2 linked regions of the Homo sapiens genome follow. The protein of the gene in region 1 purifies or fractionates together with the protein of each later gene. This does not show direct contact. Each region holds a gene or a part of one and is shown on either strand. Other genes may lie near its edges. The genes, in order: WDR1 and POTEE.

The links.
Region 2: the proteins of WDR1 (region 1) and POTEE purify together in Homo sapiens (affinity purification with mass spectrometry; 2 studies listed by BioGRID and IntAct, with this or other methods). This does not show direct contact.

The regions. Positions count from the first base shown.
Region 1 is NC_000004.12:10,108,904-10,125,186, forward strand, and holds the start of WDR1 (WD repeat-containing protein 1), read right to left. Parts: upstream 7,897-16,283; 5' UTR 7,764-7,896; coding exon 7,748-7,763; intron 7,332-7,747; coding exon 7,210-7,331; intron 1-7,209.
Region 2 is NC_000002.12:131,201,665-131,217,926, forward strand, and holds the start of POTEE (POTE ankyrin domain family member E), read left to right. Parts: upstream 1-7,871; 5' UTR 7,872-8,155; intron 8,156-9,363; 5' UTR 9,364-9,519; intron 9,520-15,924; 5' UTR 15,925-16,019; exon of another isoform or gene 16,020-16,262.

The sequences.
Region 1 (16,283 bases):
TACACATCATTTGTGCCCCACCTGCCTTCTGTACTACGTGGACACCAGAGTGGGGAAGGTTCACACTTGATTCACCATAGCAGCTGCCAAATACCGACAAAGACCAGAACTTGGCTGGAGCCTGGTAGCTGTTTATCAAGAAACAAATCCCCACCGGCCACTTACTATTCACTCTCAGACAGGCCCTGGGTGGGCCCCTCAGTGGATTCTCTTTGAAACCTCACAACACCTGCTGTAAGGAAGGTAACCTCATAATCCCACATGACAAAGAAACCAAGGCAGACACTGGGCGATACGCCCCAGGCCACCCAGCTGTTAAGTGGCAGCGCCAGACCTGAACTCAGGGCCAGTTGCTGACTCACCTGGGTTATGAGCATATAACTAACAGCACGGTGAGTCAAGGGAGGTAACAAATGCTCAACACCTTCACACAATCCCAGGTCACGTCACTGCAAATCAGGGACCATATGTGGCGGCCTTTACTCCTCCCTGTGGTTTTGTTGTCTTCCTTACGGTTGGTCTCAATGTTAGTGTGATTCTTTAATACAGAGAATAAAGTCTGCACTGGCCAACCAGCTGTGTGCTTCCAAACAGTGTACAGGCAGCTCCTTGAGCTGGCTGAGGACGGGGTGGTCACTCACAGGCCGCCATGCCCTGAACGACTTTCCCCTCCTGCCTCCCAGCTCAGCCTCAGATGCCTTGAAACAGGCCTGGGGGTACTCACCGTGTGGCCCTGCACAGCAGCACCCCTCATTGGACTACGTGTGAGCGGGACACCACCACCTCCGTTTTCAGTCTTCCCCTCTCCTACTCCCCACCCAGGGCCCACCAGGGCCTTAACTGATGAGTTGCAAAGGTAGACCTGGGGGTGGCTCCCAGGGTTCAAATTCCAGCACCTTCCAGAGGTTCAGCATCCTCACCTCTCAAAAGAGAGATGAGGGTATCCACCCAACAGGGCAGTCATGAAGACAAGAGCAGAGGTCCCTGCCAGGGCCCAGACAACCTTCTGAAGATGCTTTACGAATTAGCTCCGTTAAATCTTACACTGATCCCATGATAACATTCCTCCCACTCTCGCAGGCATGGAAACAGAAGAGGCAAGCACACCAAGTTTCAGCCACAGACCAGCACAAAATACACTCAACAAAGAACAGAGAGGTGCTCAGGGGTATACACTGGATTGGACAGTGGGGCGGGGGTAGGGGTGGGATGCTGGCCTTTCCCTGGAGAGCAGGCAGGACCCATACGTAGAAGTGACAAGCAAGGTGACCAAAGCTAAGGACCCACAGGTCTAAGGAGCAGGCACATCGCCAGGGCAGGGAGTGCCTGCCCATCACTGAGACGGCGAAGAGACGCACACAGGGCCCTTTCCTGTGTCCACAGCTGTCCCTAACAAGGGCCTTGCAGAAGGTGGAGGTCACTCTCCAAAGAAGCATCTCCAACTACTCTTGGGCAAGGCCATCTCTCCAGTAGTCTTACGCATGAGGCTAAACCTCTTCTCTTACCTCAAAGATGGCTTCAGTATCCCTCCCGTTACCTCCAACAGGGCAAGAAATGTACCAAAAGCAACACACAGGAGGCCACAGTGGGGCTGAGAGGACCCAGGTACACATGCTGTTTCCTGCCTGGTTTCTCCCCACCTCTGCCGTGTGTCTCAACGCTCCTCCTGGAGAACTCTTATTCATCCTTCAAGACCCAACTCAAATGTGGCACTTCTCCAGCAGCTGTCCCCGCTCTGTGGCACAGCTGGCTCCTCCCTCACATTCCCAGAGCACCCAGGGCATTGTTCTTTTGAAGCACTTAACCTGGTGCCTTCGAAGGTTCTTTACCAGAGTTTTCAACCTTGGTACCCCTGGCATTTGGGGCTGGACAGTTCTTTGTGGAAGGACGGCCATGTACCTTGTCGGATGTTTGGCCACAACCCTGACTTCAGATACCAGTGGCACAAAAATGTCTGCAAACGTTGCCAGATATCCCTCAGGGGAATGAGGTGGGGGAAATTACCCCTCCCTGAAAATCACTGATTTTAATCCTGGTCCTCTGTGGCTTAGGGTATGGCTTGCCAAGACAGGGGCTTAGTGAACATGTGTGGGAAACGTGAGAGCCAGAGATGGCTGCACCACGCAACGGAACCTGCGCTGACGCCGCCTTCATCTTTGAGCAGCTTCCTAATTGGCTTCCCTGCCTCAGATCTCAGATACAGAACTTCTCCTTACCGTAGGCTGGATCTGATTACTTGTCTGTGAGACCTCTGAATGGCTCCAGTGGCCTTCAGAGCAGGGCTGCGCTATGGTAGGGCTGTGTGAGCCACCTGCCACCACTGCACACCAGCACTTCTCAGCCTGGGTCCTGTCCACTCCCCTCACGCTCAGTGCCACAGTAACAGCCCATAAGCACCCGGCCCTTCGGTCCTCCCAGATGTGGTCCCATCTGCAGAAGCCCAGCGTCCTGACTGGCACCTGCAGCCACTCAGATTCTCCTGAGATGAAGGCCCCCCACCACCCTCTGCTTCCCCTGCCATCAGGTGGTCAGACTGAAGGCCTAGAGGTTCCTGGCTCTGCACCTGGCAGGCGCTGCTGCCAGCTCGTTTGCACCCAGGTGATAATCCAACGCACCACTTCCTTCTGCCACCTAGAGTTTATTTCACTCCCACCCAGGACAGTGAGCTCCATGTGGGCAGGGCCTCCATCCTGCACCCCCACAGGCCAATGGCCATCTGGATACACGCAGGTAGTCAGCAGGCGTCCAATTCCGGAGAAGCAGCTAGGTCAGTCCTCAAGCCCTCTGTCATGCCACCATTACCCCCAACCCGCAGGAAACACAGGTGAGTCCTCTGCATGTGAATGGTGGCAGCTCACACCAAGGGAAACCAAGAGTGAGCCCAATACCCTCCCCAACCCCCCACTTGGTCTGCCCCCTGTTCAAGGAGAAAAGTCCACTGATACTGCGCCTGGGTTCCCAGCAGTGTCAAATTGCTATAAACCTTGCACTCCCGGAAACTCAATTTTATAGACATCATTTTTCCAAATGTGTATTTTAGTTCTGGAATCTAGGAACTGGATACTTTAAAAACCAGGCCCCAAACTTGCCTGCATAGCAAATCTGCTGGCTGCCTGGCAGCACACAAGAGGGCCTCTGTTGTGAGGCAAAAGTTGCTTTTTTTTTTTCTTTTTCTAAACAGGGACTACTGGCACTACTGGCATTTTAGGCTGGGTAATTTTTATTGTAGGATGGTCCCGTGCCCTGTTTAGAATCACAAACAGGTTCGTTCACAGCCATTGGGGGTGACCCTTCCCAGTCTTTGCACAGAGGTCATAAGAGGCAGAGGTGATGCAGGCAGGGTAAGGAAACTTAGAAGGAACCACCCCAGACCTAAGGAGGTACCAGCACCTGCAGGAAGCCTTCCTTAGACCCCCGAAGCACAGACTATCCATCCCTTCTCCGTGGGGAACTAATGTCTCTCAAACACAGTGTACATATGGTTCACTGGAATCCCCTTCTTGGAGCTCTCTCCTTCTGGAATATTAGTTTCTACATGGCCACCATTATAGTCTTTCACTCTACAGAGGAGAGTTGCCTCTCCAGGTGAGGCAACGAGATGTGTTGAAATAAACAGGTAAGAAACACCCTTTTTCTACAAGTTTAAGAAGTGCCATTATGCTGGGTTCACAAAACAGCTTTTAAGTCAACAAAATAAATGACAGAGGGGGCTCCAAGTGCAAAGCTGGCAACGGTGCTCGCCTCTTAGGTATGAAAGGCGATTCCACAAAATTTAGGTCCGGCAATCTACACTGAGCTGAGCTTTCCTTGTTCTCATGCAGTAAGACCTCAGTGGCTGCCTATTATCTTCACGACACAGCCTGGTTTTCCAGGCTTTTTAATCAATGAGTAACTCACTGAGCACCTACTGTGTGCCAGACACTCTCTTAGGCGAGGACACGGCAGTGACTGAAAGAGAGGGGAAAGCCCTGCTGGCCTGGAGCTGATGCCCAGTTAGGGGGACAGGCAGATACCTATGTACACTTGTAGGCAGCCGTAGCCTGCTGCTTGTTAGCTTGCTTCCTACTTATTGTCAGCAATGAGAAAGACAGAAGGCCGGGGATGGAAAATTCTATTCCGGGGACACCCCTCTACTAAGGTGACTACATCTAAGTATAAACCAAAGGGAAAGGCCTAGTGTGGTGGCTCACGCCTGTATCCCAGGACTTTGGGAGGCCAAGGCGAGCGAGCAGATCACTTGAGGTTGGGAGTTCAAGATCAGCCTGGCCAACACGGCGAAACCCCGTTACCTACTAAAAAATACAAAAATTAGCCAGGTGAATTGGCACGTACCTGTAGTCCCCACTACTCGGGAGGCTGAGGCAGGAGATTTGCCTGAACCCGGCAGGTGGAGGTTGCAGTGACCCAAGATCACGCCACCGCACTCCAGCTTGGGCGACAGTAAGCCTCCACCTCAAATTAAAAAAGAAAAACCAAAGAGAAGACAGGGAGCAAGACTTGCAGCTATCTGAGAAAATGTCCAGGCAAAGGCAATAACTAGCAGGTACCAAGACAGATGTGTGGCATGTTCAAGAAGCAGCAAGGAGGCAAGAACGCTGGAGCCGAGGCCACGGTAAGGACTCTGGCTTTCACCGAGGTGGGAAGCCACTAGAGGCCTGTCTTGTGTTTCAGCCACTCCAGCGAGTGTTGTGAACAGACCCCCAGGGCAACAAGGGTGAAAGCAAGGAGACCTGTTTGGTTTTCGGGAGTCTGGGGGCAATAAGTCAGGTGGGGGAAGATAGCTTAGTCGTGGGTGGAGGCAGAGGAAGCCAGGGAAATCTGTTAGATTCTGAAGATACTTTGAATGTGGAGTCAGAAGGATTTACTAAAATTAAAATGTGGCGCAGTAGCGAAGCAGAGAGTGAAACAGGAGTCCAAGGTTTGGGGCCTGAACAGCTGGAGGAACGGTGTTCCCTTTTAGGGGAAGAGCACGTGGGAAACACAAATTTGGCTTGGAGTATGTATGTTGAGTCTGAGATGTCAATGAGACATGTTAGATCTTCCATGATCTGGTCCTCCATTTCTTCCCTCTTCCCTCCCTGAGCCTGCATTCCAAACAGACCATCATCCTTCCTGAACGGTCATGCCAATTCATGTCACTTTTTTTTCCAAGAGTACTTTGCCCTAAAAAAAATCGTACCCACCTTTACTTGAGTACCCAGTCCACCCATCCAACTAACAAGAGACTCAGTGCCTGATCTACATCCAGCCCAGGGAGGGCTATATTAGTAGCATCTCGTGCTGACCTGGCATTGCAGAAACTTAAAAATAATTGAGAAGGGAAACAGGGTAACCCCTGAGAAGAAAATGGCAAACCACGGGGAAGGGGTAAGAATACAGAGCTCAGAAACAGGCAGAATGGGTTTCACAAGCTGGGAAATGCTTTCTGCAAAGGGGTGCCTGTCCCTGAATGACCACTCCATTAGAAGCAGCTCCAGTTACTGGCCTGCCTCACCTTGCTAAGTCTGACTCCTCTTTAGAGTAACGGACCCATGTGGGGTGGAAAGAGATGCTACAGTTTAAGAAGCTATCACAGGGCCAGATGCACAGCAGGTACTTTATGTGAGGCCCCCTCCCTGGAAGTCAATGTGGACTGCAACGACAGGGAAGGCCTGGTTAGGGGCAAAACGAAATATCCTACTGCTCTGTATCCGAGGACGTGTTAGTGGATTTTATTTGCCAAACTACTAAATATCTCTTTAGGGTTGTCTCAATTTTTATTTTCTCAAAAGCCTCAGGACCTGCCTTCGGAGACTTCCAGATCATTACCATTAGATCCCTGGTGATTTTCTCCAGTTCTAAGCAAGGCCCTTCGGCTTTCTAGGAATCTGTGTGACTAGCAAGTTGTTAGCACCTTCAAAGCACATTCACACCCGCCCACCCCCTCATTTGAGGGGCCCAGCAATCCAGGGCAGGTAGAGCTCTGTCTTCCAGCAGAGGAACAGCAGCGACTGCCTGGGTTAACGAGACAGATGCGGGCAGAGCCAGCAGCTCTTCGGACCAAGAGGCTTCTCCTTTCACAGAGAAGGAAACTGAGACCCAGAGACCCCTTCATTCCCTCAGCCAGTTGCTGGCCTCCTGGAGGGCAAGTGTGTCCGATCAACAGTCCCAACCTACCAAGGGAAATCAGGCTGACTTTAAGTTGACAACCCTTGTATGCCTATGGCATCAATCAAAACATACATCTTTGTGCCAGCCGCCCCCACTAAGCACAGCACAGGAGAAATCACCCAATGGCCGGGCCGGCACCTCCAACTCCCACCCCACCAATTCCATCACTCAGGCTGAGGAAGGGAAAAGCAAAATTTAAGCGTGTAACCCAGGAAGGGAGGGAGACTGACAGACTGGGTCACCCCAACAATTACAGAGGAATAACATGAATTTGCAAGGATTTCCCAAGGAGCTGGCTCTAGAAGCCTTTTCAGCCTGGGTACCGGAGGCTTGCAGAGAATGATTCATGGGAAAACACTGCTTCCTGTTTTTGCTTTGGGGCTTAGATCCATGGTGGCAGATCTGGCTGGCCCAGAGGCCCGGGTGTTTTTCCGGGCTCTGCCATACTGGAAGACCAGGGTATTAACAGCGAGTTAGCTGAGTGCCATTCCATTCAGCAAGGGCTCAAAGTGCACCAGGCACCGCTGGGCTTGAGGGACGCCAGCAGCTCATTCATTCCATCTGCCCAGCCAGCAGGCGAAGCGAGAGTGGTCATCATCTCATCATCTGTTTTACAGACGAGAAAACTGGGGCTCAGAGATGCCCAAATCGCCAATCTTCTCAAGGTCACGCAGCGGCCGACCGGGTCAGTCTGATCCCTCAAATCCGGAGCCCTTGCTTTTAAGGAATGAACTAATCTAATCTCCCATCCACGTACTAACCAGGCCTGACCGTGCTTAGCTTCCAAGATCAGAGGCGATCCGGCGCTTTCAGGGTGCTATGACCGTAGACAGAAACGAACTAAGACTCAGTTTCCTCATCAAGAAGGAGCAGACAAGGACCTGGGTGAATCTGAGGCCGGCTTCCGGGGCTCCGAGGTGTGGCTCCCGGTAGAGGGGGCGTGGCGCCCTCACCCTCCCCGGGCCAATGGGCAGGAGGTGAGAAGTGGAGAGGAAGGCGAATTATCCCATCCCAAGGTGGCTCCGGAGCAGAACCGCGCCCGGGGTAGGGGGTACTCACGTCGATGTTCCTTAGGATGACGCACTTTCCATTGGTGTACAGAAAATTGTTGCCCTTAGGGTCGCCGCCGATGATCTTGGAGACGCCCCTCTCCACCTGCGGGAGGCTGGCGAACACCTTCTCTGCGGAGACACAAATGCGGCGGGGCATGTCAGGGCAGGGCGGGGACGGCGGGGACAGAAGGGAGAAGGAGCCCCGGACCGGTCTCGGCCGGTCACCTGTTGACTGCGCCGGGAGGGCGGCCTCCACTTTCCACGAGCGCCAGGAACCGCGCGACTTCCTGGTCCGCGCCCCGGGCCAGGCCCTTGGGGGCAGCGGGGCTCCTCCGGCTCGGCCCACGGCGCCAACTTGGGGGCGCACCCCCCGTCGGGGGTCCCGCCCTGCACCACCGAGGGCGGCCCCGCCACGCCTCCGGCCGGCGCCCGCACCCCTCCCCCGCGCCGAGGACTCCCCCGCCACCCGCACGGCGCCTAGGGGCCGGGGACCGGGGCCGGGGCAGCGCGGCGGCCGCTCGGGGGCCCCGCGCCGCGGCACTTACTGATCTCGTACGGCATCCTCGCCCACTTGTTACCGCGCCGCGCTCGCCGAGAGCCTCCGGGGCCGGCCCGCGCTGCGAATTACACCTCGCCGAGGCCGAGCCCGGGGACTGGAGCCGGAAGGCGGCACCGGGCGTGCCGGGAGTGGAGTGGGCGGTCCGAGGCCGGGGCTCAGAGGCCAGCTCGCGCCTGCCCTGCGCGCTGTGGTTGCGGACGCCCCGAACCCGGAAGCGCGGTCCCGCGCGCGGCTCGCCCCCAGCTTTGACCATATATAGTCAAGCGCTCGGCTCGGCGGCTGCGGTCCCGGCGAGCCTGCGCGGACCTGGCGCTCCCCTCCCCCGCCGGCCCCGGCCCCGCCTCCGCCTTGCTCGCCCCGCCCCGGAAGTGACGTATAGCACGCCCCGCGGGCCCTTGAAAAGGCGGCGCAGACAAGCAGCCGCGTCAGAATGCTTCTGGGAGTCGGGGGGTGGGTGCCTTTCTGTTGCTAGCTTGTAGGAGAAGCTGGGCTGTAGGAAGTTTATTTGCGGGGGGGTCTTAAAGACGCTGAAAGTACTGGCGGGCTTTGGTGGGGGTCTGGAAAAACCTCTCTGTACCTGTGACCGCGTTGCGTGGCGGGCGCTCCCCGGCCTCTCCTTTTTGACCGGTCCCGGGCGTTGCCCAGCCGCCAGTCCTCCTGCTCGGGTTTTGTAAGCAGGAGAGGGATGCTTTTTACGTCTTCTTAAAGTACGGTTAAGTGCCCTTGCTTGAAGTAGTTGCTGGCAACAAGAACGTAGGGGTTACTCTTTGTTGGGCCTGAACTCGTGCTTTTTCTCTCAAAAGTTGAGCTTTTGAAAGGCAAAAAAGGCGTGGGGGATGGGGGAGCTGTCGGTCTTAAGGAAGTTAAAGGTTATTTCCTAAACAAAACAAGTCTCACTCCTAAAACCAGGGTAGTGGCTCAGTTGTGGCGGGAGAGCAGGGGCTGTAAAGTGTCCAAGTTTCTAGTCTCATCTTTCAGTAGGATGGGTACAAGCTTTCCCCTTGGGGCTCTGGGGGCTGGGAGGGTTGTAAAAGTGGGAGAAAGCAAAGTATTTGGCGGGGTGCGGGCGGGTAGCTGAATGTTGTTGTAAGTGGAAGAGGAATGCTGTTGGCGTCTTTCTCTAAGCACGGTTAAGTGCTTTTTCTTGAAGTAGTTACTGGCAACAAGAACGTAAGGGTTACTCTTTGTTAGGCCTGAACTCGTGCTTTTTCTCAAAAGTTTAGCTTTTGAAAGGCAAAAGTGGGGGTGGGGGCGCTGCTGCTTTTAAGGAAGTTAAAGGTTATTTCCTAAGAAAGCAAAACAAGCCCCACTTGTAAAACCCGGGTAGTGGCTCAGCTGGAGAGCAGGCGCTGTGAAGTGTACAAGTTTCTAGTCTCATCTTTCAGTAGAATGGGTACAAGCTTTCCCTCGGGGCTCTGGGGGTGGGAGGGTTGTAAAAGTGGGAGAAAGCAAAGTACGTGGGTGGGGGGTAGCTAAATGTTGTTGTAAGCGGGAGATGGATGCTTTTGGCGTCTTTAAGCACGGTTAACTGCCCTTGAAGTAGTTGCTGGCAACAACGTAGGGGTTACTCTGCTGGGCCTGAACTTGTGCTGTTTCTCTCTCTCAAAAGTTAAGGTTTTTAAAAGGCAAAGGCGTGGGGAGAGGGGTAGGGGAGCTGCTACTTCTAAGGACGTTAAGGGTTACTTCAGAGCAAAACAAGCCCCACTTCTAAAACCAGGGCAGTGGCTCAATTGTGGAAGGGAGAGCAGGGAATGTGAAGTGTCCAAGCTTCTAGTCTCGTCTTTCAGTAGCGTGGGTACAAGTTTTCCATTGGGGCTCTGGGGGCTAGGAGGGTGGTAAAAGTGGGAGAAACCAAAGTACTTGCGGGTAGCTAAAAACTCTGAAACCCACGCTGTGAGCGGTTCCTGCTTCTCTGAAAGGTCTGTTCTGCTTAAGGTTGTATCAAGGTTAGTCTCTTGCTACCTACTTCTGTAGAGCAGTCTCTCGTGGCTCACCTGGGTTAGTGGCCATGTTGCCTGTCTCCTATTCTTCCTAACCTTGTGTGTTCTCCAGGTAGCTGAGTGATCCATCCGAAGTAAAATATTCCTCAGCTTGTCTGTAGGGGCTCCAAGTTTCATGAAGTAAAAGCTAGTCTTGAAAACGGCCCATTAGGGTCCTGGATGACAGTCTCCGGGTCACTTAGACTCCGTTGTCCGCCTCCCCTCATCTGTATCATCTTTGCCTTGGGTACTGGCTTCGGAGGGTGTTTTCCTGAAACTCTTACCTGAGATCTACTTGGCTGACTCCTGTGTCCTTCAGAAGTACTTAATTGCTCAAATGTTAGTTGATGAGTGTCACCGGTCTCATTTTAAATTGCAACTTCAACCCCTTGCAAACACTGCTTCTCATTCCCGCGTTCCCTAACTTTAACTCTCAGGAATAACCCTGACACCTGGAAGATGCTCCTAGGGATGACCCCACTCCCCACCCACAACTGTTAATCAGGAAATAACGGATATGAAAGTAGCTCTGCGAACTGAGGAGCCGTGGAGAATGTACAAAACAGATTCCTAAAGTAAGATACGCAGGCCCGGCTTGTAGGCCGCTGCATCTGCTTTGATAACTTAGAACTCATCAAATCACCTTGAGACCCTTAAAACAAATGGTATAATTGCATTCACAGGTAGTGCATTCGTGTAACAAGATTAAGAAAACGAAGGACCAACTTCAAGCTCTTGCAAGCTGGTAACCTTTACACTCGTGCATAAAGCCTTGCTGGAGTTGACACTGAAAACTAAACAGTCGAACTTGAGTAAAACATATCCAAACTCCCAGCTGCTGGGCTCTACAGCTTATTTTTAGCTTGAAAGTTACATGTTGGAGCTGCAGAGGCTTTATGGTGGTGGTGGGGGAGCTGTTTGTTCGTAGTCACTTGAGTCTATATGAACGTGGCAGGAAATCTGAAGGATGTGAAAGGAAAATGGGAAACACCAGGGTGTTCCAGGATTTTCCCTGTGGGGCGCGAGCTCAGTTTGGTGTTGTCAGCTGTGGGAGCTTTAACACTTGAACCGTCTTTACTGTGGGTCTAGCCTATTCGTTGGGCTCCCCTAGTCACCACTCATGCCTTCGTGTATCCTGTTGTGTTGGGCCCCCACTGAATTAAATAGGGATGGCACCATGTTCGAGAAGCCGAGGCGACCCAGAGCCAATGAACACATATGGTGTATGGAGGGGACTTGAATACAGAGTGGTCCAGAGCAGCCAGCTGGGACAGAACTGCGCTTCAAAAAGCAGTTGATACAGATCAGGTACACCTACACTCCCAAGGTGTGGCTAAGCCGCTATCAGGTGTCAAGCGTGTAAGGGTCACTGCCAGGATATACTTGAGTTGCTTTCAGCTGTCATAACTCTCTAATAGGATGGGGATCCTGAGGTCTGCATACACCAGTGGTTCACATCTCTGAGGACCCAGCTACTTCTCTGGCCCTTTCTGGAACCTGTCTACTTGGAGCTCCGTAGGAAGGGTCTGAAAGGCCCCTTACTCGCACTGAACGACAGCCAGAATAAGACTAATTTGCCTTCCCCTTCCCTGCTGATTTCTCTGGGGTGCTGCTTCCGATAGTGACCAGCGTCCTTGCATCTCCAGCTGCACTGACCAGAAATCTCACCCCCCACTTAGGTTAAAGCCTTCACTAAATCTAGTTGCTTAGAACCTCTGTATCAAATCTTTCTGTAGCCACAGCCCTGCTTTGGTGCTCTTTAACCTGGGTTATTCTAATTTCTTCCTGACCAGTTAATCTGTATCTGCTTGGAGCCCCTTACTGCAGCCAGAGAAACTTTAAAAGCTTGTTGAGCCTTGGGTAGCCTAGGTTTCTATCTTGAGACCGAACATCCTCCCTGGGCTTCTGAGACACTGGCATGCTGAGGCTCTGCCTGGCTCAAGGAGCAAGTCTCCTGGGTCATTCTGTTCTGGCACCTGTCTCTGGGTCTTCACTGATGCCTCAGTTTAAGGCCAATCCACCCTCAAGCTATACTCCCATTTTGTTGCACACTGGTTTGCTTATGACTATGGGGTTCATCAGCGTCTCGACTCTCCCCTTTTTAGGGATTGAGAGCAGGGACCTTGTTGCTCGAGCACTTGTTGCAGGGGCCCACCCAGACAATTGGAAACAGAACGCAGGTGTGCCAGATCTATGAACACCTGCGTGCTTTTCAGACAGTGGCAATTCTTCCTTTTGCTGTGTGAGCGAGCAACATAAGTATCACCTGAACTTAATTCTAAAGTGGCAACAATGTGTTCTTGAAACTTCTAAGCAGCAGCAGCTTAGGATACTTAACTCTTCGACTACCTTTGGGGTAAACTAGCTCCAATTGGGTAACTTGGGCAAACCGCTAACTGGCGTCAGGTGCTAAATGAGCTGTTTAACAGCTTTCCACTCAGGGGAAAACAAGTTTGGAGTGGGTTCTGAACGCTTTATGTAACGCAAACAGTGGGGGCGTGTGGATTCCTGGAATGCACCTTGTCCTCTGAGCACGCTCTGAGTCCTGGCTTCTAGAGCCACAAACTGCAAATACGTCAGATGTGTGAGGCCTATACTGGAAGCTTTGGGGAGGAACAAAGCCACAGGAGAGCTGAATTTCTCTCCAAAGCCTGTCAAGCTGCTTCCTCACTTTCAACCCTCATGGGTTCTGTCCAGGCTCAGGAAAAGGGGGCTTTCTCTTTCCTGTTGCTTCAACTGTATCAACCCCCTAGGAAGAGCCCTATGCAAGGGTAGCGCTGCTCCCGTCTAGCTCACCCTGTGGACTGAACCCCCGCCCTTTCCACAAAGGACTGTTGGGTATAGTGGGGGAAGCCTTTCTGCTCCAGGAATTTCAGTCCCTTTTGCAGGCCTGTCCCTGTCTCATAAATAAGCTCAAGTCATATTCAAAGTTTCATCTCCGGAGTGTCCCTGGAGTAAATCACCTTTATCTACTACCTCAAGCCAGTCTCGCTGCCTCCACCTCCCCATCTGCACAGGGAGTTGGAGTGATTGCCAGTGAGTCCTCTAGAGGGTCTGACACATGGTGGGAAGTGGCTGCCCACAGCCTGAGTTAATGTGTAACGCTTTTAGCTTCGCTGTCAGGCTTTCAGATCTTTAATTCTCAAATCTCACTGGTTGGATCGAGTCCATAGTCCGTTACTAGCTGTGACTAGGGAGGGTGGTGAAATGCATGGCAAAAGCAGCTACTGGTATCCACCTTTTGACCTGGAAAAATCCGGGTTGTGGGGCCTGGGCTGTCCCTCCAAAGTGAACTGGAAACCGGGCTACCTTGCCAGAAGTGCTTGGATGCCTTTGTCAGAGGACTGGTAACAAAGCCTTTAACCTGCTAGCATAAACCTTATGCAAAAGGGGTTAGCCCGGTTAATTCTGCCAAGGCAAGAAATGAGTTATCTGCAACCCTCCAGTGAACTCGTTTACTGAATCCCTTCTTGGGGGGCCCTATGTGTTGTAAATACCTTTCTTTCCAGTTGAGCAGCCCATTGGAAAGTGGGTTTTGCAAATAAGCAAATAACTAACACCTGCATGCTGCAGCAGCTTTAAATCCCTGCAAGTCATGGAAGCTTGGGCATAACTTTTCAGTTTGAGGTTACTGAAGGATGTACTTCTAAACAGCTAATCAACGGCATAACTTTAGTAACACAGTACAAGGAATATATCCTACTTGGGTTGTCTACCCTTGTTTCTTAACCATAGCTTCAGGCAACGAAAGCTATCTGATCATCAAGATCCCGGTGAAGGGGGTGGTAACTGGGTGGAGTTGAGCCTCCACACTGGAGGACCTAAGGCCGTGTCTTGCACTGCTTCGAAGCTCCTGTAGCTGCAAAAGAACTCTGGGGACAGTTAAACAATTCCCCTGTCCCATTCTTCTTAAACTCCCATAAGTGATAGAACACAGTCGCTTCTGTCTACCTGCTGCCTGAGACTTGGTGTGTTGCTGTGAGGCCTGGTGACAGCCCCGGCCTGTCCTTTCCCGGGACCCTTCCTGGAACGTTTACTTACCCTCATACTTGCAAGCACTTCGTGTGAGCTAGATGCTGGGTTTGTGGGCCCTTGCCCTTCATCTTACATCAGGGAAGGGAACTTGGGTTGGAACTTTGCCGAGTTGAAAAGCAAGTGATGCAACCAGGAGTTAAACAGGTTGGGTCTACAGAGTCTAAACTGTCCTTTACACGTGAAAGGGCTGAAATGGATAGATCAGATATGGAAGTTTTAATTGTGCCCCTAAATAACCAACTTTTCCAGTGAAGGTAGAATCTTAGCATGCTCTCACCCAAGTTCAAGGATAGCGTCAGTCGCTCTCCAGTTGAAAGCTTTGTCTTTGGGTAACTACTTACCGTCCTAGGGTTTCTGCCTTTTCCTTCTGACTCAGTCCACAGTGCCTGGGTCTTTGCTGGCCTCCAGTTGTGTGGTCAGAGCTAACGTGTTTGGCTGTTGAGCACCGGTGTCTGGCTTGTTTTGTGCCCACAGTGCAGGGGCTTGGCTACGTGGTCACTGGGCATCCTGTGGTGCTGTGGGGGTCTGGTCTGAGGGCTGTGCCAGTGCCTGTTGCTGATATGGAGATTCCGGTCATGAGGCTGTTCGCTGCAGCGAGTCTCCTTGTACAGACCCTGTGGTGTGGCCTTCTTGCCCATTGGCCTGAGGGCTTGGGTCCTTCCTCTGCTCCATGAGCATAGAAACTCTAGATCTCAACACCCTGTGTTTGAGTGTTCAAGACTGTTAAACAGAACTGGATCCCAGCCCTCTTTTCCAGGAGTGCTGAGGATCTTTGAGCCCTGACACAGCCACAAATCCATCACAGCTCCTGCCAGCACCTCCCAATGCTGCCCCTGGTTCCTTGGCGGTGGCCTCCGGCCATTTCCAAACACTTCTGCTATTAGCTGCCTTTATAGTCGGCTTCCCTCAACACGTGGACCAAAGGGTCAGCTTTTCTGCCAAACAGGATGGACATAGATTGTTAGTGGAGGAGGGCTCTTGTATTTGTTGCCATGGAGACAGTGACCAGCTGGATGCCCTGCCTCTCCGTTCGCATGCCTCCCTGTGGGGGAGGGGGGGAATCGCACTGCGGATGGGCCTAGGGAACTTGGACATGTGTCATTCAGCCCTTTGCTCCTTTGACTCAGGCTCTGCCTGCCTGTGGTAAACAGGTGCTCTGATCTGCTCCCTCCAAGTGGGTGGTGTTTCTGGGTAGACATTGCCCATCCCAGCAGTGGGGATCTGGTAGTTGAGATCTGCATGTGGCTGGGAAGCTGTACTGCTCTGCTAGGGCTGGCATAACAAACTGCTATGAACTTGGTGGTTTCAACGGAAATTCTTTTCTGGAAGCCAGGAAATCTGAGATCAAGAGGTGGGGTGTGGTTGGCTCCTTGCCAGGCTGTGAAGACTGTTTCAGGCCTCTAGCTTCTGATGGTCTGCTGGCATCTCTGCTCCTTGGCCTGTGGGACCACCACCCCATCCCTGTTTTCATCCTTAATGTCTTCTCCCTGTGCCTGTTTCCGCTTCCCTGTTTAAAGGACACTGGTCCTATGGGAGTAGGGCCCACTTTGAGTTTTACTTCATCTTAATTGCAGCAGCAGGCCACCCTGTCTCTAAACAAGGTCACACACTGAGAAAATACTTCACTGTAGGGGCTGAGTTTCATCTATATTGAAGGTAGGGCTTGCCCTGTCATCCTCCCACCCGTAAAGCCCCAACCACCAGCCTCTCAGCGCCTTGGGGACAAGGCAGAGGCGGTTGAGTTGCGGTGACCCACCTTGTTGACAGTGGCAGTGGTCACACTGTAAAGTGTTGCCACCCATTCTGGGGCACCAGCCCTTGGGGAAACTGGACTTAAGGCACAACCTGGATCAAGAGGCTAGGTGCCTGCACTATATCTGCCTGGCAAAGGAATCACTGAGGAAGTGACTGAAAAGTGCTTCCCTATCTCTGACCCTGGTTTTGGCTTTCATCCTAAAATGCTCTAATGAAGCGGCCTAAAACACATGGCTGCCTTAGAAAACAACCACTGGAGCATTTGAGGAGTTGGCATCTCCCCCGCCTTTGGGGACCGTGGGACCAGTTTCTTAGCTCGGCTGCTGTGGCCATAAAAGTACTCCTGCTTCTAGGCATGACCCGGAGGATGGTGGTGGCCACAAAGCAACCAGGAGTGGGTGCTGTCTCAATGTCCCTGGCTTGGGCCCTAGGTCTAGACAAGGACCTCGGTCCACTTTGTTCCGGTCTGGGAGGGTTCCAGTCATTCCCGATGGCATTGCTGGGATTGGACAGGAAGTCCCTACCATACACAGGCAACTCAGGTTCATGTAGAAGGAGGCTCCTCAATAAGGGAAAACATCAAAGGGGGAAGTTTTAGATGAATGAGCTCAGACTCCGATGAAGCTGATAGACCGAGTAGCTCGACACATTCTGGAATATCTGGCAACTGGCATGGACTCCGTAAAAGGATTTTAATTTTTGTCTGCTTTTCGAGGTACATTTAGGCACAGCTGTTAAATTGGTAGTTATGTC
Region 2 (16,262 bases), on another chromosome or scaffold:
AAGTGGGGTCTGTCCTTGAGCCGTAGGCTTTCTCACCCCTCAGCCACTGAACACAGCCACCCTGGACAACTGACCTGACACAAGATGAAGGGGCAAAGGGACACAGAAGAAGAGCAGAGACCCCTATCTCTCAGGTGACCACTGGAAAACCCACTGCTGCCCGCGTAGGGGGAGTCAGAAGAGGGGAGGGACGGGCCTGAGCTGGGAGGGGCTGGAGTGCACAGAGGCTGTCCCTGCAGCACTGGAAGCCTGGTGTTCCAGAATGACCACTGCCTGCCCTGGGCCCCCAGACAGCTCCTCTGGGTCTGCCCACTGTATAGCCACTGCCGGTCCATCCACAGTGGACTCTGGGTAGGGTAGTGGGTGGGCACATGGTGGCACACTTGGGAGGTCCTTGTCGTTTGCAACACACAAGGCTGTACCCGTGACCCAGACAAGCCCTGGCCTGCCCCGCCTCACAGCCCTGCTCCCAAACAGGACTCTTCACACCCCGGGAGGTTCTGGTGAGGCTTGCGGCAAAGCCTGGATGTCTCTCTGACTCTTGGATTTCCAAACCTGAAGCCAGAGTGACCTGCATAGATGGGTGCCCAGAGGTCCTGCCTGCCACCTCCCTAAGGCCCCAGGCAAGCAGAGCCGCATCTGTGTTGGGGAGGTGAGGGTGAGTGGGCTCCGGGGGTGGGGGCAGAGGCATGGCCAGTCTGTCCTGGGCCCAGTGTATGTGAAGACAGAGCAGACAGCCTGCTGGCACGTAAACACAGGATGGGGTCTGGGCACTGTACCCTCTGGCTTGGACAGCAGAGACCTGGGGCTGCGGTCGGGGGTTGCTTTCCTGCACCAGCCTGGCCCTCCTGGACACTCGCCCAGCTTGCAGATCAGGCAGACAGTGCCATTGTTGCTGCAGTGAGAAGGGTCCAGGTTTATCATGCACTTGGGCTCCAGCCTGGCCACCAGGCCCTGGAGCACGCTGGGGATGCTCTGCTGCTCATCGTCCTCAAGCCTGTGCTTCAGGGTGCATACCACTGGGGCCTTGGGGAGGCACCATGGTGACCACACTGGGCACACATGGCCCAGGGCCAGGCAGCCACCCTCCGCGAAGCCCAGCCCAGCTGGATGTACGTGATGGGTGGGCTGTGGATGGCAGTCATGGTTGGAATGATTGTGCGGTACAGGGAATGGTTGAAGAGGGTGAGCGGATGTTGGCCAGGATGGCATCCAGGAGCAGCTGGCATAGGTACTGCTGTTTGGTCGGTGGCACCGGGGGCAGTGGGGGAGTGGGCTGGAGCAGGATGGGCACGGTCAGCAGCCCGGAACCTGAGGGTTCCCCATGTAGGGGGCTTTCCCACCCCAGGCCCGTCCTCACAGCCAGATTCCCGAGGCCTCTCTCTCAGCCTCCACCCTTGTGCAGACAATGTTGGCCGATCCTGGGTATAATCACCACCCCCACAGCCTTGTCCGCCCCAGAGTCCCTGCCCCCTCTGGGCCGGGTGGCAGAGGCACTGATGGGGGCCGCAGATAGAGAGTGACTTCTCCCACGTTCCCACCCAGCACAGCAAACCTGGCCTGGAAGAGGCCTGGTGGGCAGGGTCTCAGGTCAGGCCCAGCCCCTACCCGGCCACCCTAACCTTGAAGGCCCCTCCCAGCAGTGGTCCCAGGAGCTCTTGGGGGAGCCCCAATTCTCCCAGGGATGCCCAGGATCCCACACTCACCACTGCCATGTCAGTTTTGAGTTTTTTTTTTTTTTTTTGAGATGGAGTCTCATTCTGTCACCCAGGCTGGAGTGCAGTGGCGCCATCTCGGCTCACTGCAAGCTCCACCTCCTGGGTTCACGCCATCCTCCTACCTCAGCCTCCCAAGTAGCTGGGACTACAGGCACCCGCCACCACGCCCGGCTAATTTTTTTTTTTTTGTATTTTTAGTAGAGACGGGGTTTCACTGTGTTAGCCAGGATGGTCTCGATCTCCTGACCTCGTGATCCGCCCGCCTCGGCCTCCCATCGTGCTAGGATTACAGGCATGAGCCACCACGCCCAGCCAATATTTTTAAATAAAAAATTACAAAGCTGTTTTTCTTAAAATGTTACAATAAAATTGTATCTGTGTGTAAAATATATCTATTTTATGTGTACGTGTGTGTGTGTGTGTGTGTGAGTGTGTGTGAGAGAGAGAGAGACAGAGAGAGACAGAGAGAGAGAGAGTTATGAATTAGGAAGCATATGTACCAAAACATTAGGAGTAGTTGAGTAATGAGATTATGAATGATTTGCACTTTCTTCTTTATACCTTATCATCATCTCAAAATTTACAATCAGAATTCATTATAAGCTATTGTTTGTTTATTTATTTATTTATATTCGCAGTGGTGTGATCTCAACTCACTGTAACCTTGGCCTCCCAGGGTCAAGCAATCCTCCCACCTGAGCCTCCGGAGTAGCTGGGACAAATCAAAGTTAAGTTTTCTTCAGTTTAAAATAACTTGTTATAATTATGTTGTTTAGCCTCATGGTAACTGGAAAACAAAAATCAATAATAGACACCCTAAAAATGAAAAGCAAGCAATTAAAACACACTACCAGAAAAAATTACCTCACTACAAATAGACAGGAAGGAAGGGAAGGAGGAAAGAAAAGAAAGAAAGAGATCAGAGAGAAGAGAAAGAGGAAGGAAGGGAGAAAGAACAAAAGAAAAAAGAGGGAATAGCAAAACCACCAGAAAACAAGTAAAAAATGGCAGTAGTATGTTTTTACCCGTTAATAATAACCTTGAATATAAATGAATAAAATTCTCCAATTAAGACAGAGTGGCTGAATGGATTAAAAGACAAGACCCAATTATATACTGCCTACAAGAAACTCAGTTCACCTATAAACATACATAGACTGAAAGTGAAGACATGATAAATGATATCCCATACCAGTGGAAACAAAAAAAGCAGGAGTAGCTCTACTTAGATTATATAGACTTTCAGTCAAAAAAAGAAAAATATGAAGATAATTATATAATGAGAAAGAAGTAAACAGCAGAACAATTACAAGTGCATATGCAACCAGCACTCAAGCAACTAAATACAGTAGCAAATATTAACAGATCTTAAAGCGTAGACTGCAATACAGTAACAGAATGCCTCAATGCTCCGCTATAATCAACACCCCACTATCTTCAACGGACAGATCATCCAGACAACAAAACATCATCAGTTAAACTGTACTCTATACCGAATAGACCTAACATTTACACAGCTTTCCATTCCACAACTGCGCAATGCACATTCCACTGAATAGCATACGGATTATTCTCCACAACAGACTATGCGTTAGGCCAAAAAACAAGTCACAACACATTTTTAAAAACTGAAATCATGGCCAGGCGCGGTGGCTCATGCCTGTAATCCCAGCACTTTGAGAGGCTGGGGTGGGGGGCGGATCACAAGGTCAGGAGACAGAGATCATCCTGGCTAACACAGTGAAACCCTGTCTCTACTAAAAATACAAAAATTAGCTGGGCGTGGCGGTGTGCGCCTGTAGTCCTAGCTGCTGGGGAGGCTGAGGCAGTAGAATGCCGTGAACCCGGGAGGTGGAGCTTGCAGTGAGCCAAGATCGCGCCACTGCACTCCAGCCTGGGCGACAGAGCAAGGCTCTGTCTCAAAAAAAAAACAAAAAAAAAAACAAAACCTGAAATCATATCAAGTATCTTTTCTGACCACAGTGGAATAGTACTAGAAATCAATAACAGGAGGAAAAACTGTACAAATATATGGAAATTAAAATACATGCTCATGAACAACCAATAAATAAATGAAAAAAAAGAAAATTAAAAATTTATTGAAAAAATAATAGAAACACAACATAACAAATCCTGTGGGATGCAGCAAAAGCAGTTGTAAGAGGAAAAGGGCATAGCTATAAACACCTACATCAGAGAAGTAGAAAGATCTCAAATAGCCAACCTGACAGTACACCTGAAGTAGTGAGAAAAATGAGAAAAATAAAATGCTAAAATTAGTACAAAAATATCATAAAGATTAGAGAAGAAATTTTAAAAATAGAAACAAAAAATACAAAAAGTCAATGGAACAAAGAGCTGGATTTTTTAGAAAAAAATCAAAACTGACAAGCTTTAACTAGACTAAGGAAAAGAAAAAGAAAAAATCATAGATGAAAAATGAGACATTGCAAGTGATAACACAGAAATATGAAGGATTGTAAGAGATTACTAAAAACACCTATATAAAAACAAGTTGGAAAATCTAGGAGAAGTGATAAATTTCTGGACACATAACAAATTCCCAAGATAGAATGATAAACAAAAAACCGGAACAGATCAATAATGAGTAATATAATTAAAGCAGTAATAAAAAGTCTTCCGTCAAACAAAAACACAAGAATCATGGTTTTACTGCTGAATTCTACCAAACATTTTTAAAAGAGCTAATACCAATTTTACTCAAAATATTCCCCAAAAAGTGAAGAGAAAGGAAGTCTTCGAAACTTGTTCTATGAGGACAGCATGATCCTGGTACAAAAACCAGACCAGGAAACAACACAAAAAGAAAGCCACAGGCATTTTAAATATCCCTGATAAACACAGATGCAAAAAAATCCTCAGCAAAATACTTGAAAATTGCACTTGACAACACAATAAAAAGATGATCTGCCATGATCAAGTGGGATTCATCCCAGGAATATGAGGATGATTCAATAAAACACAAATAAATAAATGTACGACATCACATTCAGCGAATCAGGAACAAAAACCATATAATCATTTCAGTAGATGCTGAAAAAAATAAAAATCAACATTCCTTCATGGCAAAAACTGAACAACATGAGTACAGAAGGAACATAGCGCAATAAAGGCCATATATGATAAACCCACAGCTAACATCATAATCAATGGGGAAAGGTTAAAACTCTTCCTCTAAGGCCTGGAACGAGTGTGGCTACTTTTACACCACTTTTATTCATCATAGTACTGGAAGTCCTAGGTAGCGCAATTAGACAAGAGAATGCAATAAAAGGCATCCAAATTGGAAAAAAGGAAGTCAAACTGTCTCTGTTTGCAGGTGACATGATCATATATATATACATAGAGAAAGAGAGAACCCTAAAGATTCCACAAAATCACCTACAGGAAATAATTTAGTCAAGTTGCAAGATACAATATCAGCACACCCATGCACCAATAGTGAAATACCTAAGAAGGAAATCAAGAAAGCTATTTCATTACCAAAAAAATTATATCTAGGGATAAACTTAACCAAAAAGACAAAAGATCCCACAATGGAAACTCTAAAACACAGATGAAAGCTATTAAAGCAGACACAAGTAAATGGAAAGATATCCCATGTCCATGCACTAGAAGAATATTGTTAAAATGTCTATATCACCCAATGTGATCTAGAGAGTCAATGCAATCCATGTTAAATTACAAAAGACATTCTTCATAGAAATAGGAAAAAAAAATCCTAAAATTCACATGGAAACGCAAAATACCTCAGATAGACAAAAGAATCTGGAATAAAAAGAAAAGCTGGAGGCATCACACCTGACTTCAAAACATACTACAAATCTGTAGTAAGCATGGTAATACCAAAACAGCATAATACTATCAAAAAAAGGGGCGGGGGAGAAACAGAAACGAAGGAATGACAGACATAGACAAGTGAAACAGAATAGAGAAATCAGAAATAAATTCACACATTTATGGCGTACTCATTTTTAACAAAGGCACCAAGAACACACATTCGGGAAGGACAATCTCTTCAATAAACTGCTAGGATAACTCAACACCCACATGTGCAGGAATACATCTAGGCCGTTATCTTACCATATACAAAAATCTGCTCAAAATAAAGATTTAAATGTAGGACCTGAAACTATAAAACTACTAGAGAAGAAAACATAGGATAAATGCTTCATGAAACTGGTTAGGACAAGGAATTTTCAAATAGACATCAAAAGCACAAGCAACAAAAGCAAAGATGTAATTACATTAAACTTGTCAAAAGCACAAGCAACAAAAGCAAAGATGTAATTACATAAAACTTAAAAGCTTCTGCAAAGCACAGGAAGAAATCAGTAGAACGAAGAAACAACCCAGAGAATGGAAGAAAGTATTTGCAAACTATGCATCAGCCAAGGGGCTAATACACAAAATATATAAATAACTACTCAAAAGCAAAAATACAAATAATTTGATTAAAAAAAAATCTACCCCAAATCTTTGTCTCCCACCATTATTTTCCCACCTTCTTTTCCCGACCGCCTTTGGCCTCCTCCCCCTCGCCACCCGTTTTCTTCCTCCATCTACCCCAAAACTTTTTCCCCACCATTTTTCCCTACCGTCATTTCGCAAAGCCTTCTCTGCTCTCTCACTCACCACCCTTTTCCCCATCCACTTACCCACTTTCCCCACTGTTTTTTCCCACCGTCTTTTCCCTTTCTCCCTGGCCACCTTCTTTTCCCCCATCCCACTCTCATCACCCTCTTTTGCTCCTTCATCTAAGCAAAAACATTTTCTCCCGTCTTTTCCCAAACCCTTCTCCTCACTCCTGCTGCTCACCACTTTTTCGCCCTTCATCTACCCGAAAACTGTTTTCCTCATCGTCTTTTCCCCCGCTCCTCCTTGCCACCCTCTTTCCCTTCTCTACCCAAAAACATTTCCCCATAGTCTTTTCGCAAAGCCTTCTCCCCACTCCTGCTCACCTCCCCTTTTCCCCCTCCATCCACCCCCCAGAATATTCCCTACTGTCTTTTCACAGTCTTCCCCCCTTCCCACTCGTCCTCTTCTTTGCCCTATCCTGCTTGCCACTCTCTTTTTTGCCTTCCATCTACCCCAAACTATTTTCCCATTTTTTCCCCAACTCTCTTTCCCTGCTCCCTCTCGTCACCCTCTTTCCTCCTCCTCGTTACCCTCTTTCCCCCCACCATCTACCCAAACACTTTTTACCCACTGTCTTTTCTTTCTCCACCGTCTTTCTTTCCTGCCCACTATCTTTTTGCAAAACCTTGTCTTCCTCCCGCTGGCTACCCTTTTCCCTTCCCCCACCTGTTACCCTCTTTTCCCCCTCTATCTACCCAAAACCTTTTCTCCCCACTGTCTTTTCACAAAACCTTCTCTCTCTACTGCTCAACGCTGTTTCTCCCCCCCACCACCCTCTCTTTCCTCCTCCCTTGCCACCCTCTTTTCCTCCTCCATCTACCCATAAACATTTTACCCACCATCTTTCTGCAAAACCTTCCCTCCCTGCCGCTCCCCACCCCGTTTTTCTCCCTCCATCTACCCAAAAACTTTTTTTCCCACTATCTTTTCCCCACCGCCTTTTTGCAACGCGCTCTCCTGCTCACTATCCTCTCTTCCCTTTGGCACTAACCACCCTCTTTACCCCCTCCATCTATCCCAAAACTCTTTTCCTCCTCTTACCGCTTCCGCCGCACTGCCGTCTCGGTCGCGGTTACCACCAGTCGCAGCGAGGCGAGCCACGGTGTAGCGGCTCCAGCCTCCAGCGTACGGCTGGTGATTACCCATTCCTGGTCCTCTAAGCCGGGCACTGAGCAGCTCCACAGGAAAATACGGGAACGTGGAAGAGCCTGACTTCCCTTCAGCAGCAGGCGTATACCGCGGTTATATACAGGAGGATTCCTGACTGCATGTTCTGATTGGATGAGAAAAACCCTCCAGGGTTACTTGGATTGGACTTTATTATCATGTTCTGATTGGATGAGAGCCAGTCTTAAGACAACCAATCACAGCATGAAAATAAAGTCCAATCAGAGTAGGCCTAGAGGTTTTTCTCTCATCCAATCAGAACATGTAGTCTGGGAACCACATGTGCGTAACCTCAGTACGTAAAGCATGCGGAGGTGGCGTCAGGTCATTTCAGGCTCTTAAGTGTGGGCGTTTGGTAACCGGCATGGCTGCTACCTGTTTCTGGCTGGAGCCTCGGACACTGGCTCACTGCAGTTGGTGGTGTCCACAGAGCGGTAGGAGGGCAACTAGTAGCGGGAGCTTCTCCTGCCAGGCAGGAAGACGAGTAGAAGGGAGCAGCACCGACGCATGCTGGAGGCTGGAGCCTGAGCCCCTGGGGCTCGCCTTGCTGTGTTTGGTGGTGACGTGGGACACTGCAGCTCGGCCAGAGTGGTAGAAATGTCCTGGTGTAGGTGAGTTATCCGGGGATGTACTGCCCGCCTGTGGGGGCAGGGGTTGGGTGTCCTATTGGGGCTCACTGCCCGAGGCTGCACTGCCTGTGTCAGGGGGCTGGTTGGGGGCACTCTCCGAGGTTGCATTGCTGGCGGTGGAGGGGGGCGGTTTTGGCTGGCTGTCCGGGGCTACACTGCCCGTGGTGGCGGGGGTGGTGGGGGGGAGGCAGGTTGTGTGCACTAACGTGTACTGCCGGTGGCGGGGGAGGGGTTAGGGGCACTATTTTCTGCTGCACTGCCCGGGGCAGGGAGTGGTTTGGGTGGTTATTTGGAGCTACAATGCTGGCAGCGGGGGGTGGTTTAGGAGTGTTGTCGGGTGCTGCACTGCCCTTACTCAGGGTGCGCTATCAGGAGCTGCGCTACCTGTGGTGGGGTGGGGGCGGCGATTTTGGGGCACTGTCTTGTGCAGCAACACCTGTGGCTGGGTCAGGTTGTGGGCACTATCGGGTGCTACACTGCCTGTGGAAGGGGTGGTTGGGGGGGGGTATTGGGGTTACACTGCCTGCAACTGGCACAGGGTGTGTTGGGTGTGCTGTCCGGGGGCTACACTGCCGGCGGCAGGGGTCAGGTTAGGGTTGCTATGGGGGCTATACTGCCAGTGGTGTTGGTCGGCTGCAGAGGTGGTGGGGACAGCAACAGCCATGGTCTCCTTGCTCCTTCGGGTAACTCTTCTCTTTTCCAGACTCCAGAGTTCCTGCTCGTGCAATCTTGAGCAGGGCAGGGCCCCCACACCCACTGCGGTTCTCCGGCCTGCACCTCCCGCCCACACCCCATGCTCTGTGTTGGGGAGACCACCTGGGACTACCGGGTGGGGATTAGTGGGCATCGCGGGGGACTGTGGGAACAGGGCACTGTGGGTGGAGGTGTCAGGAACGGGAACCAGCAGTTGAGTGGGGAGGGCTGGCTGGGTCTGAGTTTCTCCTACTCCTGCTCCCCAAGGAGTGCAGCCCTGGTGGGCCCAGCAATTTCTGGCCAGTTGCACCTGGATGGGGGTGGTTTCAGCATAGGCACTCACACCCGCCCCAGTTCCTGGCCACCTTTTGCCAGAAAGAGAGGCTGGACTTCGGTGGGTGGGTGTGAGTGCCTTAGCTGAAGCTGGTCCCTGCCACCCAGTGGCCAGCATGACAAGGTGAGGCTCTAACGTTACCACTCCCTGCATCCCATTCTAGGCTTTTCTGGCTTTGCCGGTCTAGCTGCTCCAAGCCAGGCTGGAGGAGGAGGAGAAGGAATCACCTGTGGTACGCTGGAGCCTGCATGTGGCGTGACTCTGCAGCTCGCCTCGTGTGACTGATGGCAGCCACGGAGACTGCAGCTCGACAGGAGTGGTAGGAGGGTGCCCGCGGGGGCAAGGTGGTAGGAACCTTGTAGGGTGGGCTGCTGCATTGACGGCGACAGCAACTGTATTGGCATTGGTGCTAGTGGTGGTAGTGGCAGAAAGTCTGGGGACTGGGAAGGGGGAGTAGGAGCACTGCAGGGCCCAGTCCGACCTGGGGTGGGGAGGAACCTGCTGGTGCTGTACCATGGGCCTCGGTGGCAGTGGTGGAGGTGCACTTAGGGAAAGGAGTCCTCCCCCTTCTCTTGCAATCTCTGGAGGGTGGCCTCCTTCTGAGCCAGGCATGAGTGGCAGCATTGTCTCATTCTTAACAAAATTTAGGGGGTGACTGTGTGTGTGTGTGTGTGTGGCTTTTTTTTTTTTTTTTTTTTTTTTTTTTGAGACAGAGTCTCGCTCTTTTGCCCAGGCTGGAGTGCAGTGGTGCGATCTCGGCTCACTGCAAGCTCTGCTTCCTGGGTTCACCCCATCCTCCTGCCTCAGCCTCCCTAGTAGCTGGGACTACAGGCGCCTGCCACCACGCCCAGCCAATTTTATTTTTGTATTTTTAGTAGAGATGGGGTTTCACAGTGTTGGCCAGGATGGTCTAGATCACCTGACCTCATGATCCGCCCACCTTGGCCTCCCAAAGTGCTAGGATTATAGGCGTGAGCCACCACTCCCGGTCATTTTTTCCTTCTTTTTTGTTGTGATGGTCTTGGACTTTTTCAAATTTTGTGAATTGGGGAGGGGATAAAAGGTGTCATAATAGGCCTTCTAATTCCTGCACCTGTTCTTTTTGCTTTTTCTAGTCTGTGTATTCTTCTCATCTTCTTGTTCCTCTTCATTTTCTTTTGCTGCTGCTTCTATTTCATGTTTCTATTCTTGTTTCTCCTCCTCTTTTTGTTTTCTTTATGCCAAGCAATGGCCTTAACAAACAACAAGCCAAAATTGTCACTGTGTTGTATTTTTAAAATAACTGGTCCTTTACTATGTTTTAGGGATGAGGAAAAAAATCAGTTGTATAATTAGTTACTTGAATAGCTATGCTTTCATGATTGTGTTAAACCACTTATGCCTAGTGTTCCATTATTGGAATGGTAAGCATGAGGGAGTTAATTACATCCTACTGCTCAAGGTCATTAGAAGGTTTGATTTTTCACTCGTGCAAAAATTCAAAAAATTGCAGCCTCTGGCATAAATGGGCTAATGCGTTATAAGTAGTTATTCAGAGAATCAAAAAATGAAGCATCACATAAAAATATTGGTGGCAAACAGCCATTTCATCTCTCTCACATATTTGGAGCTATGCAGGAGTCACGGGGTAAGTTCTAATTTATGAGATTATTAAGTGAACTGTATTGCCTTCATTTTCTCTGCCACCATTTCCTTTGTTTTCTTTCTTTTTTTTTTTGAGATGGAGTTTTGCTCTTGTTGCCCAGGCTGGAGTGCAATGGGGCGATCTCGGCTCACTGCAACCTCCGCTTCCTGGGTTCAAGCAAGTCTCCTGCCTCAGCCTCCCGAGTAACTGGGATTGCAGGCATGTGCCACCATGCCCAGCTAACTTTGTGTTTTTAATAGAGATGGGTTTTCTCTATGTTGGTCAGGCTGGTCTTGAACTCCCGACTTCAAGTGATCCACCTGTCTCAGCTTCCCAAAGTGCTGGGATTGGAGGTGTGAGCCACCACGCCTGGCTCTCTGCCACCATTTTCAAGAGTATTGCCATCTGCCTGAGCAAACCTGGTTCATCACCACCTCTTTGCAAGAGAAAAAGGAAGTCGGGAGAATTGTGTGTAATTTTTTTTTTTTTGAGATGAAGTCTCGCTCTTGTCCCCCAGGCTGTAGTACGATGGCCCGATCTTGGCTCACTGCAACCCCTGCCTCCTGGGTGAAAGCAGTTCTCCTGCCTTGGCCCCCTGAGTAGCTGGGATTATAGGTGCCTGCCACCACGCCCGGCTAATTTTTGTATTTTTAGTAGAGATGGGGTTTCACCATGTTGGCCAGGCTGGCCTAGAACACCTGACCTCAGGTGATCCACCCACCTCGGTCGGCTGTGTGTATTTTAAGGCAAAGATTCACAACCAAAAACAAGGCTTTATTAACTTTTGTATCTAAGAACCTGCAGTGTCGAGCCCTCTTTTATTCCTAGTATTACTACTTTAGGTGTGAACTTTTTATCTTTATTTTACTGATTCCTCTAGAAGTTTATGCATTTTCTTGACTGCTTTAAAGACAATCTATATTGTATCATTTTTCAAGCCCGTAGAAATGTGTAAGGCCTATAATTTGAACACTTGTTATTTTTAAGGTTATGAGCATGTAATATACCATTGATACATGGAAGAATATGTATAAATACCACTAGATAGGTTATATTGAAGAGATAATATCTAAATTTTTGTCCAGAGTTGATGGGGTGCAGTTTTGTAGGTGTGTTTCTCAATACATTGTGTCCATGTTTTAAAGCATATAGAAATTTGAATACTGTTTAACCTCATATAGTCCTTGTTTATAGGTTTAATATTTCTAAAGACTAAAGACGTCACAGCTCCCTTTAAGATTCAGTAATACTAATAAAATTTGAGATATACAGGGTTAGAGTCCAACAAATTCAAAGGAAAATTGTTGAATTATATAGCCGTAGAGCAGGAATGAAACCCAGGTTCTAAGTTCCAAGGGGGCCATGAGCTACCATACAGGTGCATCAGTGACTGGGCATAGAGTTGGCAAAATTATTTAAGAGAGTGAGCTGTGGATCCTAATTATGTGAACATGAATTTTTGAACTGCATGGTGCCTCAGTTTATCCATCATTACAGTGGGGACAGTAGTAAGTTTTTCTTTTTCTGCTCAGTTGTCTGAATTATTACCCCAGTCTCTCTTGTTGCCACTCTTGATGCCCACATGAGAGGATCTAAGGTAATTTCTGACAACCTGGGACTCCTTAAGGAAAAACAGAAGGTTCCACAAACCCCATTTTAGGAGAAACCTCTGTTTTCCTCATGGAACCCCAAGAACTTTAAGCAGACAGGTCCCTCTCAAAAATCTAAGGCTCTCCTCTGTTTTGCCTTGCGTTGTCTGACCTTTTTGGTTTGGATGGGCATCAGAAATTAGTAGGGGAGAGAGATCTAAAGAAAATTGTGGATATGAAGATGTATTTATTATAAGAAATGTTATGAAGGAAAGAAATGTTATATGAGAGAGGATCTTATATGGCAAATTGTTGTCCTAAAGTAGAATGACTAATTACAAAAGAGGGAAATACAGGACAGGTCAGATAAATTTAATCATGTCGTAGATAGTCTGTGGAAGTTGTGTTATGGTTCATAAAGTGGGAAAGAAAAACTGAACAACTGCTAGATCTTTTCTTGTCTAGAAGTGTTGTGTATGTGATGTATATATAATGGCTCGGCTTAAAAGAAAATGAAAGCTCTTAAATATTTTGTAAGAAAAATAGAAGCTCTAATGCCTTTTATTTCATGTGACTTCAGTAATCTTTGGGAAATAAAGATGGTGTTAAAGTCAGTGGTAAAATAAAAATATCTTCAAAATTTATCCATTTGGTCTAATTTAAGTCAGAGGTTAAGTTTTAGAAGTGCTTTAATGTCATAAATTGATGCTTTGACTTTGGAAAATAGTTTTGTTTACCTGGTTTGGAGCCGTTAGATTTCTAGGTAAGGTCTCCGGACAGGTGGAGTTAGCCATGTCTCCTAGCTATGCTGGAAGGAGTCAGATTTTATCTGCAGTTCTGTCTTGTATCCTAGACTCTGCACCTGGTATGCAATTAAAACTTACTGCTGCTGCTAATCTCTGGGTTCCATTTAAAATCCTTCCATCACATGAATACTATCCCCTGTACTAAATTTTTCCACAATTAAATACTTAGAATCATTTTTGCTGACTTGACCCAACCATTAGTGATATATTTTAAAAATGCTTATAATGTGTCACAATATATTTAGCAAATGTAGGGAATGACATTTTTACTTTCTTCAGCATTTACATAGCATTTATGTAGCAATGCTATCTCAAGTATTTTTAATCATTTAAACGTTAGATAATAGATATGTTTTTGATTCCTTTTTTCTATGTAAATAAATATAATTATGAGATATTTAGTAAATAGTATCAATTGCATATGTCACTTACAGAATATACAATGCAATTAGGATTATTTTTATACACTACATCATATTTACTTGTTGGCTTTACAATAACTTAGAAATAGTATTCTGGATTAACTGTGTGACTCATGAGAGAGGGAGTTTGTGCAATTATAGTCTTTACAAATTTTTACTAGATTTTTCAAGACTTACGCTAGAACTTTGAGAACAAGGTAATAAATAAGCATATCTGTTAATATCACCTTTGGTCAACTCTTGGCTAGACCCAATGATAATGTAGGAATTAACATAATTTTTCTACTAAAGGTGTTGGATTTGTTCCGAGAGACCACAGTTCAAAGTCATTGACAAAGAAAGTTTAAAAATTGTTAGATTAAAACCTTTTAGTGTGTTTGAAATTGTTTTGTAGAAAAATATCCTGGTTTGCATTGATAGGTTTTTTTTTAAATAACAACTAGACCAAGAGAAAGGGAGAGTAGTGATAAATGTCCATGTTTTCGAGTTGAAAAGTAACAATCAGTGTATTACAACAGATGGATTTGATGTCAAATTACAAATGCTGAGAACGTTATATGTAACTGACTTGCCAGAGTAATTATACAAGGCAAAGAAAGGAAAGGCATCTAAATAGGAAGGGAAGGGGTGAGATTGTCTGTGTTTTAGACTCCACAAAAAACCCATTACAGCTGATAAACACTATATTCAATAAAGTTGAGAGTTACAAAATTAACATTGGTTTCCATACACCAATGACAAACTGTTATCTGAAAAATAAGGTAATTCCATTTATAATAGCAACAAAACAAATATATAAGTAAATCAAAGAGCAAGGAGTAATTTTAATGAAGGATGTGAACGATTTGTATACTGAAAATTATAGCACATTGATGAAAGAAATTGAAAGTGACAAATAGAAAAAGTCCTATATTTGTCAACTGAAAAAATTAATATTGTCAAAATTTCAATGCTACTCAAAGCATTCTACAGATTAAATGCAACCGCTGTCAAATTCCAATGTCATTCTTCACAGAAATAGAAAAATTAGTCCTAAAATCTGAATGGAACCACAAAAGATGCTGAAAAACCAAAGCAATCTTTAGCAAAAAGAACAAACCTGGAGGCATCAGACTACCTAATCTTTGACAAAGCAAACAAGAAAATGGGAAAGGACACCCTATTCAACATATGCTGCTGGTATAATTGGCAAGCCACATGCAGAAAAATGAAGCCGTTCTTCAAAGGTTAAATACAGAATTACCACATGACTCAGTAAATTCACTCCTATGTATACACCAAAAATAAATTAAAACAAATGCCTTACACATAAAGGTATTTATAGCAACAAAAAGTAGGAAACAACAGAAATGTCCATGAATTTTGGAGTGGATTAATAAAATGTGGTCTGTCCATAAAATAAAATATTACTTGGCAATGAAAAAGAAAAACATATTAATACATGCTCCAAAAAGGATGAACATTGAAAACATGATAAATGAAAGTAGTAAGTCACACGTAACTATATTATTATGATTCCACTTACATGAAATGTCCAGAATAGGCAAATCCTTCCAGAATAGGCAAATTCTTAGGAAGTAGATGGATGATTGCCTAGGGCTGGGAGAGGTTTAAAGGAAGAATGGGGAAAATAGGGAAAGATTGCTAATGGGTGCAAAGTTTCTTTTAAGGAGCATAAAAATGTTCTAAAATCGTGGTGATTGTTTAACTAGTTAATACACTTAAAAAACTGAATTTTATACTTTAAATGAGTGAATTAAATAATATATAAATTGTATCTCAATGAACCTGTGAAAAAAGTTAAAAAATATGTGGTATGCATAAACAAAAAGTTCTTCATTTTATTTCCTAGGGTTTTGGGGAAAAGGTGGTGTTTGATTATATGAGTAAGTTCTTTAGAGGTGATTCAGGAGATTTTGGTGCACCCAACACCTGTGCAGTATACACTGTATACACTGCACCGGGGCAGGAGCTGGCTGCAATCCTGTGGCCCCAAATGCCCCCTTGCTGATGGCCTCGTGTTCTGGGTGCGGAGCAAAGAGGAGCAGGTGTTGAAGGCACCTCAGGCAGGCCCTGGGCTCGGTGGGCGTCTTGTGCTCCGCGATTTTGAGGCCATTTGCAGCCAGCTCCGTCAGCCCGAGCTCCCAGCTGCAGCTGCTGCCATGCACAACAGCACCGCCAGGAGTGTCCTGGGGGCTTTTTTCAAAGGAGGCTGTCAGCATCCTCAAGTTCCAGACGCTTAGCCCCAGTCCTCCTTTAAGAGGCTTTTTTTTTTTTCACCAGAGGCTTCTCAGTGGCTTGAAAGCTCAGCTGACTCCCACGAAGTTTGCCGGAACTCAAGGCTGTCAGTGACATTCGTGGCGCCAAGACTTAAGCAGGCGCGTTGCATGCATCGGCCAGTGTCTGTGCCACGTGCCCTGACGCCACCTGAGATAAGCACGCCGCACGCCGCACGCCGCACGCGCACGCCGCACGCGCACGCGCACGCCCGGCAGCAGCTTGCTGGCTTGTAACGGCTTGCACGCGCACGCCGCACGCGCATAACGGTTTGGCCGGCCTGTAACGGCTTGCACGCGCACGCCGCACGCGCGTAACGGCTTGGCTGGCCTGTAATGGCTTGC